Linked DNA regions of Homo sapiens. The protein of the gene in region 1 purifies or fractionates together with the protein of each later gene. This does not show direct contact. Each region holds a gene or a part of one and is shown in the gene's direction. Other genes may lie near its edges.

What was found. The genes of interacting proteins can lie anywhere in the genome.
Region 2: the proteins of RAD51AP1 (region 1) and WDR20 purify together in Homo sapiens (affinity purification with mass spectrometry; one large-scale study listed by BioGRID and IntAct). This does not show direct contact.

Annotation. Positions count from the first base shown.
Region 1 is NC_000012.12:4,548,890-4,552,389, forward strand, and holds part of RAD51AP1 (RAD51-associated protein 1), read left to right. Parts: intron 1-3,500. UniProt on the Homo sapiens protein: Structure-specific DNA-binding protein involved in DNA repair by promoting RAD51-mediated homologous recombination.
Region 2 is NC_000014.9:102,146,397-102,149,896, forward strand, and holds part of WDR20 (WD repeat-containing protein 20), read left to right. Parts: intron 1-3,500. UniProt on the Homo sapiens protein: Regulator of deubiquitinating complexes. Activates deubiquitinating activity of complexes containing USP12. Anchors at the base of the ubiquitin-contacting loop of USP12 and remotely modulates the catalytic center of the enzyme.

The DNA of each region.
Region 1 (3,500 bases):
TCTTGGAAGCTATTAATTGTGCAAAGCACTGTGTTAAACCTTTGGGGTGTGCAAACTTCAGGGACACACAGAACAGTTCAATTCAGTGATAGCATTTGGGGAAAAAGTTTTTTCTACGAGTTAACCTTTAAGCTATGCCTTGAAAAATGAGTAGCGTTTCAACAAACTAAAGGTGTAAAGTAGCATTTCTGACTAACAGAAAGGCATTACCTGTGGAATAGACAAATGCTCTATTTGTCTCTAACTGAGGCTTGCTGGGATGAACATGGAAGAGGCTCGAGAGGGAGGCTGGTACTAATCAGGGAGGGTCTCAGACCCACTGGAAGAAGTGTAGGCTTTTTTTTCCTGGAGGTAGTAGAAATCCATGAATTATTCTGAGGCAGAAGTGATATGAAATCTATATTTTATTATGATGGTTTTTAGACTCATTTAGAAATTGGGCAAATGGAAAGTGTAGTGACCTTGACAGAACATTATAACATATTAATTAAAAATTTAAATTCATAAATTCATAAATGTAGGCCAAATCAAGATACCATATTTTAGATTTTGATATACTATCAACAAACAATAACAGATTTGCTCATCGTCACTTATTCGACTAATATTTGAATGCTTTTTATGTGCATTATATTCTAGATACTAGGGATACAATAGTGAAAAAAACAAACAGCTCCTGTCCTTCTGGAACAACGGAAATACATGAAAAAAGACTGTTTTGCATTTGTTTTACTTTGGGAGGGCCTGGGAGACAGGAAAATGCAAAGACACTCTTTGAGCGCCAATGTGATGCTTAAAGGAAATACTCATTTGAGCATTTTGGATTTCTGGAATTGGAATGCCCAACTGGTATAATGCAGATGTTCCAAAACCCAAAGAAAATCTGAACCCTGAAACATGTCTGGTCCCAAGCACCTCAGATAAGGGATACTCAGCCTATACTATATGATCTAGCAATCCACTTCTGAGTATGTATCCAAAACGATTGAAAGCAGGATCTCAGGGAGACATTTGCATACCCGTGTTCATAGCAGCATTATTCATAATAGCCAAGAAGTGGAAGCAGCCCCAAAGTGACATTTCAGTTTTCCCCCTGCATTCGCTTGTCCTGGATGAGAATAGAAAGGACCATGTGTGACCTTCATTAGGGAAAGAAAAGAGAAAATTGCAGAGAAGATAAGTCTTTTCTCTAACAGTTCCCAAAATCCGTAACTGAAGTGTTTGGGCCTTCCAGATTTTCCTCTATGGGATGCGAATGACTTGGAATTTTGGGAATTCCAACTCCCCATCTCTAATTTTATTTAAATTGCTTTCTCAATTGACTGACGAAGATTAGTTGGACCCCATTTCTGAACAAGCTTGTTACACAGAAATGTTGCCAGGGCCTACTGTTTATCCTCTTGAGCCAAGAAGAGAATCCTTCAGACTTCTAAGTTACTGAACACATGCAGTATCAGAACTATTGGATACACAGAAAGTTTTGTTGTAGATAATATATTTGGAAAGTTTGGAGAAAGTTCCTCTACCCCTTGCCTTCTTTGAGCGGAGAGCTTCTTAGGATTGCTTGAATTTGCAGGCTGCATTTCTAACAGCCCTCATGGGACCTGCTGGCCTTTCTGGGCTGATTCTCTATAGCACGGGAACCGTTATGTGAACATGTGAGTTGATTATCTTTAACATTGTGTGTGGGAACAATGATAGAATAAGGACATTGCAATTTGAAGATCATAATGACATTGTTTTTTGTTTTTGTTTCGTTTTGTTTTTTGAGATGGAATCTCGCTCTGTCGCCCAGGCGGGAGTGTAGTGGCACGATCTTGGCTGACCATGGCCTCCGCCTCACAGGTTCAAGCAATTCTTGTGTCTCAGCCTCCCAAGTAGCTGGGACTACAGGCATGCGCCACCATGCCTAACTAATTTCTGTATTTTTAGTAGAGATGGAGTTTCAGCATGTTGGCCAGGGTGGTCTTGAACTCCTGACCTCATGTGATCCACCTGCTTTGGCCTACCAAAGTGTTGGGATTACAGAGGTGAACCACTGTGCCCAGCCCATAAATGACATTGTTGATTTAGGTAAAGGTCATCAATGGAAGGTTGATAAGGATCTTTACAATGTTGAATTCAGGCTGGCATCACCTGAACCACCTAAGAGAGGGACAACCACACATTATATGATTTCTGATGTGATGTAATATGAAGTACAAAGAATATACTTATGAAGTATATTCTTGCCGTCCCTCCTCCCCCCACCACCAAAAAAAGCGAGCCTGAATCCACTCAAGCCTTGAGAGCAGAATTCCAGCTCACATAAAATGCAAGAATATGGCCGGGCACAGTGGCTCACACCTGTAATCCCAGCACTTTGGGAGGCTGAGGTGGGTGGATCAGTTGAAGTCAGGAGTTCGAGACCAGCCTGGCCAACATGGTGAAACCCCTTCTCTACTAAAACACAAAAATTAGCTGGGCGTGGTGTTGTGTGCCTGTAATCCCAGCTACTTGGGAGGCTGAAGCAGGAGAATTGCTTGAACCTGGGAGACAGAGGTTGCAGTGAGCCAGGATTGTGCCACTGCACTCCAGCCTGGGCGACAGAGTGAGGCTCCATCTCAAAAAAAAAAAAAAAAAGCAAGATTAAGTTAAATGACACCATGAGCTAGAAAACAGACAAATCCAGAATTTAGGACATTCTACAGGACAATTGACTCAACTGCTTCAGCAAGTCAGACACAAGGGAGGACAGGGAGAAGATACTGCTCTATATTAAAAGAGATTAATATAGACTGAATAGAAGATGATACCAAGAAACTAGTGTTGGTATTGCTAGATGTAATAATGGCATTGTTGTATGAGAAAATGCTTATGTTTTTTAGAGATACATTCTGAAGTATGTAGGAATGTAATGATGTGATGCCTTGATTTTATTTTAATATACTACAAAAGGGAATAGAAGAAGAAGAGCGAGATAGATGAAACAAATGGAGCAAAATGTTGATAATTGTTGAATCTGAGTGGTGGTTTATTACTGTCTACTGTGGTATAGGTTTGAAAATTTTATATGATTGTATTTTACATATAATATTTCTTATAGATAGGTAGATATTAGTATGTGGGGACAATAGTGGTTATCTCTGAGTGGTGAGATTACAGAGTAGATTTTCTTTAATAAAGTTTTGTATGGTCTGTATTTTCTACAATCAGCATGTACTGTTTATTTTTCATTTTATTTGTACATTTTTTGATTTAAGCATTTTCTGCAATAAGCATGTCCATAATATTAAAAATGTAAAAAAGTTTTATATTAATATAGGACTAACCCTATTTACACTTAGTTTTCAGAGTTTATCTACAAGGCATGGTTTTCTGATCCTAACCCCCTCAAAAAATAGAAAGATCATTGCTTAACTATCAGGTTAGGAAATGCTTTTTTCTAGAGCAGCTGTAGCACTTTCAAAATTAGATCACTGGCTTATATTTTGCCACGAAGTGCAGAAAAGCATTTTTGA
Region 2 (3,500 bases), on another chromosome or scaffold:
TTGTGATCCACCCGTCTCGGCCTCTCAAAGTGCTGGGATTACAGGTGTGAATCACCATGCCCGGCTAGAAGAGCTTTATGTTCATGATGCTGAGATGAAGTTGGGGCCAGAAGAAGAGTCAGTTGATAAAAGCTAAAGTATTTTTAGATCCTGATTAAAGAAGAAGGTAATGGGTTGACTTGAGAGAGAATGAGCGTTCTGTTATGGGAATGCTCATATGGGAAATGTTCTGTCTCTTTGTCAAAAACTGCAGGACCACCTGTTGGTGACATTGGAGGAATTCCTGCTTTGTGTGGGAGGGTGAACTAGATGCCTTTAAAAAAAATTTCCCCCCCACAGACTTGTTTTAGATATTTTACTGCTTCAGAGAGGGTCATGTTCACACCATTCTCCCCTTTTGTAATTTTTCACACCTCCCTGGCTCCCCTTTTATAATTTAGAAAGAGGTTTAGAAGTCTGTAACTTTTTGTATTAGATTTACTTTGAGAAATCTTGTACTTAATTTAGTAGGTCACAGAGGGTTGCTGAATGACTGGAAACTTGTGTTTCTTTTCCATTAAGGGCTATTTGCTGACTTCTGAAATATTGATGATTTATTTGACTTTAGAATTTTGCATACTGAGGGGAAAGCATCTTAATGTATCATTTAAAGCAGGAGATACTTTCATACTATACCTGGGTTCTCTTGGCTTTGAAGAGGAGGGTGGTCATGAGATATTGAAAGATTGCATGGGTGGCTTGTAATCCCAGCACTTTGGGAGGCTGAGGCGGGTGGATCATCTGGGGTTAGGAGTTCAAGACCAGCCTGGCCAACACGGGGAAACCACATCTCTACTAAAAATACAAAAATTAGCCAAGTATGGTGGCGCATGCCTGTAATCCCAGCTACTCAGGAGGCAGGAGAATCACTTGAACCCAGGAGGTGGAGGTTGCAGTGAGCCAAGATCGTGCCAGTGCACTCCAGCCTGGGCAACAAAGCGAGACCTTCCCAAAAAAGGAGGACTTCATGGGTAGATATGAGCAATGGTGAGAAGCACCTGGAATATGTCATGGAAGTCCGTGAGATAGTCATGAATGCCATTCTTTCAGCAAATATTCATGGAGTATGCCTACCAGATATGAGGTACTGTTTTAGATGCTGGGTGTAGTCAGAGTCTCTGCCCTCAAGAAATGTGTCACTTATACGATATTTATTATCATTGACTTAATATAGTGACTTAAGGGTAAAGTGCTTTGATGGCAAACTTGAGCTTGAGCAAGCATCAAAACATGGTGGATTTTGTCACTGAGTGGTTTGGCTGTATGGCTAAAGAACCTTGTTTTATTTTATTTTAGTTTTAGTTTTAGTTTTGGAGACAGAGTCTCACTCTATTCCCCAGGCTGGAGTGCAATGGCATGATCTTGGTTCACTGCAACCTCTGCCTCCCGGGTTCAAGCCATTCGCAGGCCTCAGCCTCCCGAGTAACTGGGATTACAGGCACCTGCCACCACACCCAGCTAATTTTTGTCTTTTTAGTAGAGACGGGGTTTCCCCATGTTGGCCAGGCTGGCCTTGAACTCCTGACCTCAGGTGATCCACCTGCCTGGGCCTCCCAAAGTGCTGGGATTACAGGCGTGGGCTACTACGCCTGGCCAAGAACCTTGTTTTAAAAATAGGAAGATTTTTGTCGTCTGGAATTTAGTATCTCAGAGAATAATTCTGTTTGTTTCTCAGTGAGGTTAGTTTGTGCAGTAATATGAAATGTGATCTTGTTTGGTTATTCAGGAGAAGACCTTAAAAATAGAAGTAACCTTAATTGGTAGACATTTCTAATTGGTAGACTTCAGTTTTAATTTTCAGGACACTTGAAATTGACAGCATCAGTGACAAGTTACCTTGGCTCTTGCCCTTAATCCCAGTATTTTAGGAGACCGAGGCAGGAGGATTGGTTGAGCCCCAGGAGTTTGAGACCAGCCAGGGCAACATAGTGAGAGCTCATCTCTACAAGAAAAAATTAGCCAGGTGTGGTGGTGCACGCCTGTGGCCCCAGCTATTCAGGTGGCTTAGGTGGGAGAATTGCTGGAGCCTGGGAGGTTGAGGCTGCAGTGAGCGGAAATTGTGCCACTGGACTCCAGCCTGGGTGACAGAGCTGAGACTCTGTCTCAAAAAAAAAAAAAAATCATAATCCTCATTCATCAAGCATTTATTGATGACTGGTATATACAAGGCACTGCTGTCTATTGTGGCGGATGTGAAGTGTATTTAACACTCCTGTCTTTAAAGAGTTTGGCTTTGTGTGTGTGTGTGTGTGTGTGTGTGTGTGTGTGTGTGTTTGGAACAGGGTCTCACTGTGTCACCTAGGCTGGAGGGCAGTGGCACAATCATAGCTCACTGCAGCTTCAACCTCCTGGGCTCAAGTGATCCTCCCGCCTCAGCCTCCTGAGTAATTGGGACTACAGGCATGTGCCACTGTGCCTGGATAATTTTTAAAAAATTTTTTGTAGGCCAGGCGCGGTGGCTCACGCTTGTAATCCCTGCACTTTGGGAGGCCGAGGCGGGCGGATCACGAGGTCAGGAGTTTGAGACCGTCCTGGCTAACACAGCGACACCCCCTCTCTACTAAAAATACAAAAAAATTTAGCTGGGTGTGGTGGCGGGTGCCTGTAGTCGCAGCTACTCGGAAGGCTGAGGCAGGAGAATACTTGAACCCGGGAGGTGGCGCTTGCAGTGAGCTGAGATCGTGCCACTGCACTCCAGCCTGGGCGACAGAGTGAGACTCTCTCAAAACAAAACAAACAAACAAAAAATACATACATAAATACATTTTTTTCTTTTGTAGAGACTGGGTCTTGCTGTGTTGCCTAGTCTGACCTTGAACTCCTGGGCTCAAGTGATGCTTTTGCCTTGTGCTCCCAAAGTGCTGGGATTACAGATGTGAGCCATTGTTCCCGGCTGATTTTGTATTTATCATTATAATACAAAGTAGAGGATATGTGCTCTGCATGTGGCATAGCAATGTAAGTATCAAGTGGAATTAAGGAGTAAAGGTGAAGTGGAAAAGTATTTCTCTGCCTAGTAGAAGAATATTGCATTGGGTTTCAAATAGATAATTTGCCCTAAAATGTTGTGTGCAGATCATATTTTTTATAAATTTTTAAATTTGTTGCCTTGTATTTCTAATTTCAGAAATGCTTTATTTTTATTTCTGATTGAGCGTAAGATGTCCACTGCTCTTTTAGCATTTTTCTCAACTTTTCAGCTTCTCTGCCAGTTGGTAATTTGTAAATTGAGAAATATTTTGTGTCATCAATTCTATTTTATTTATTTATTTATTTGAGACGGAGTCTCACTCTGTCGCCCAGGCTGGAGTGCAGTGGCTCGATCTCAGCACACTGCAACCTCTGCCTCCTGGGTTCAAGCAGTTCTCTGCCTCAGACTCCAGAGTGGCTGGGACTGCAGGCACATGCCACCACGCCCGGCTAATTTTTGTATTTTTTAGTAGAGATGGGGTTTCACTGTA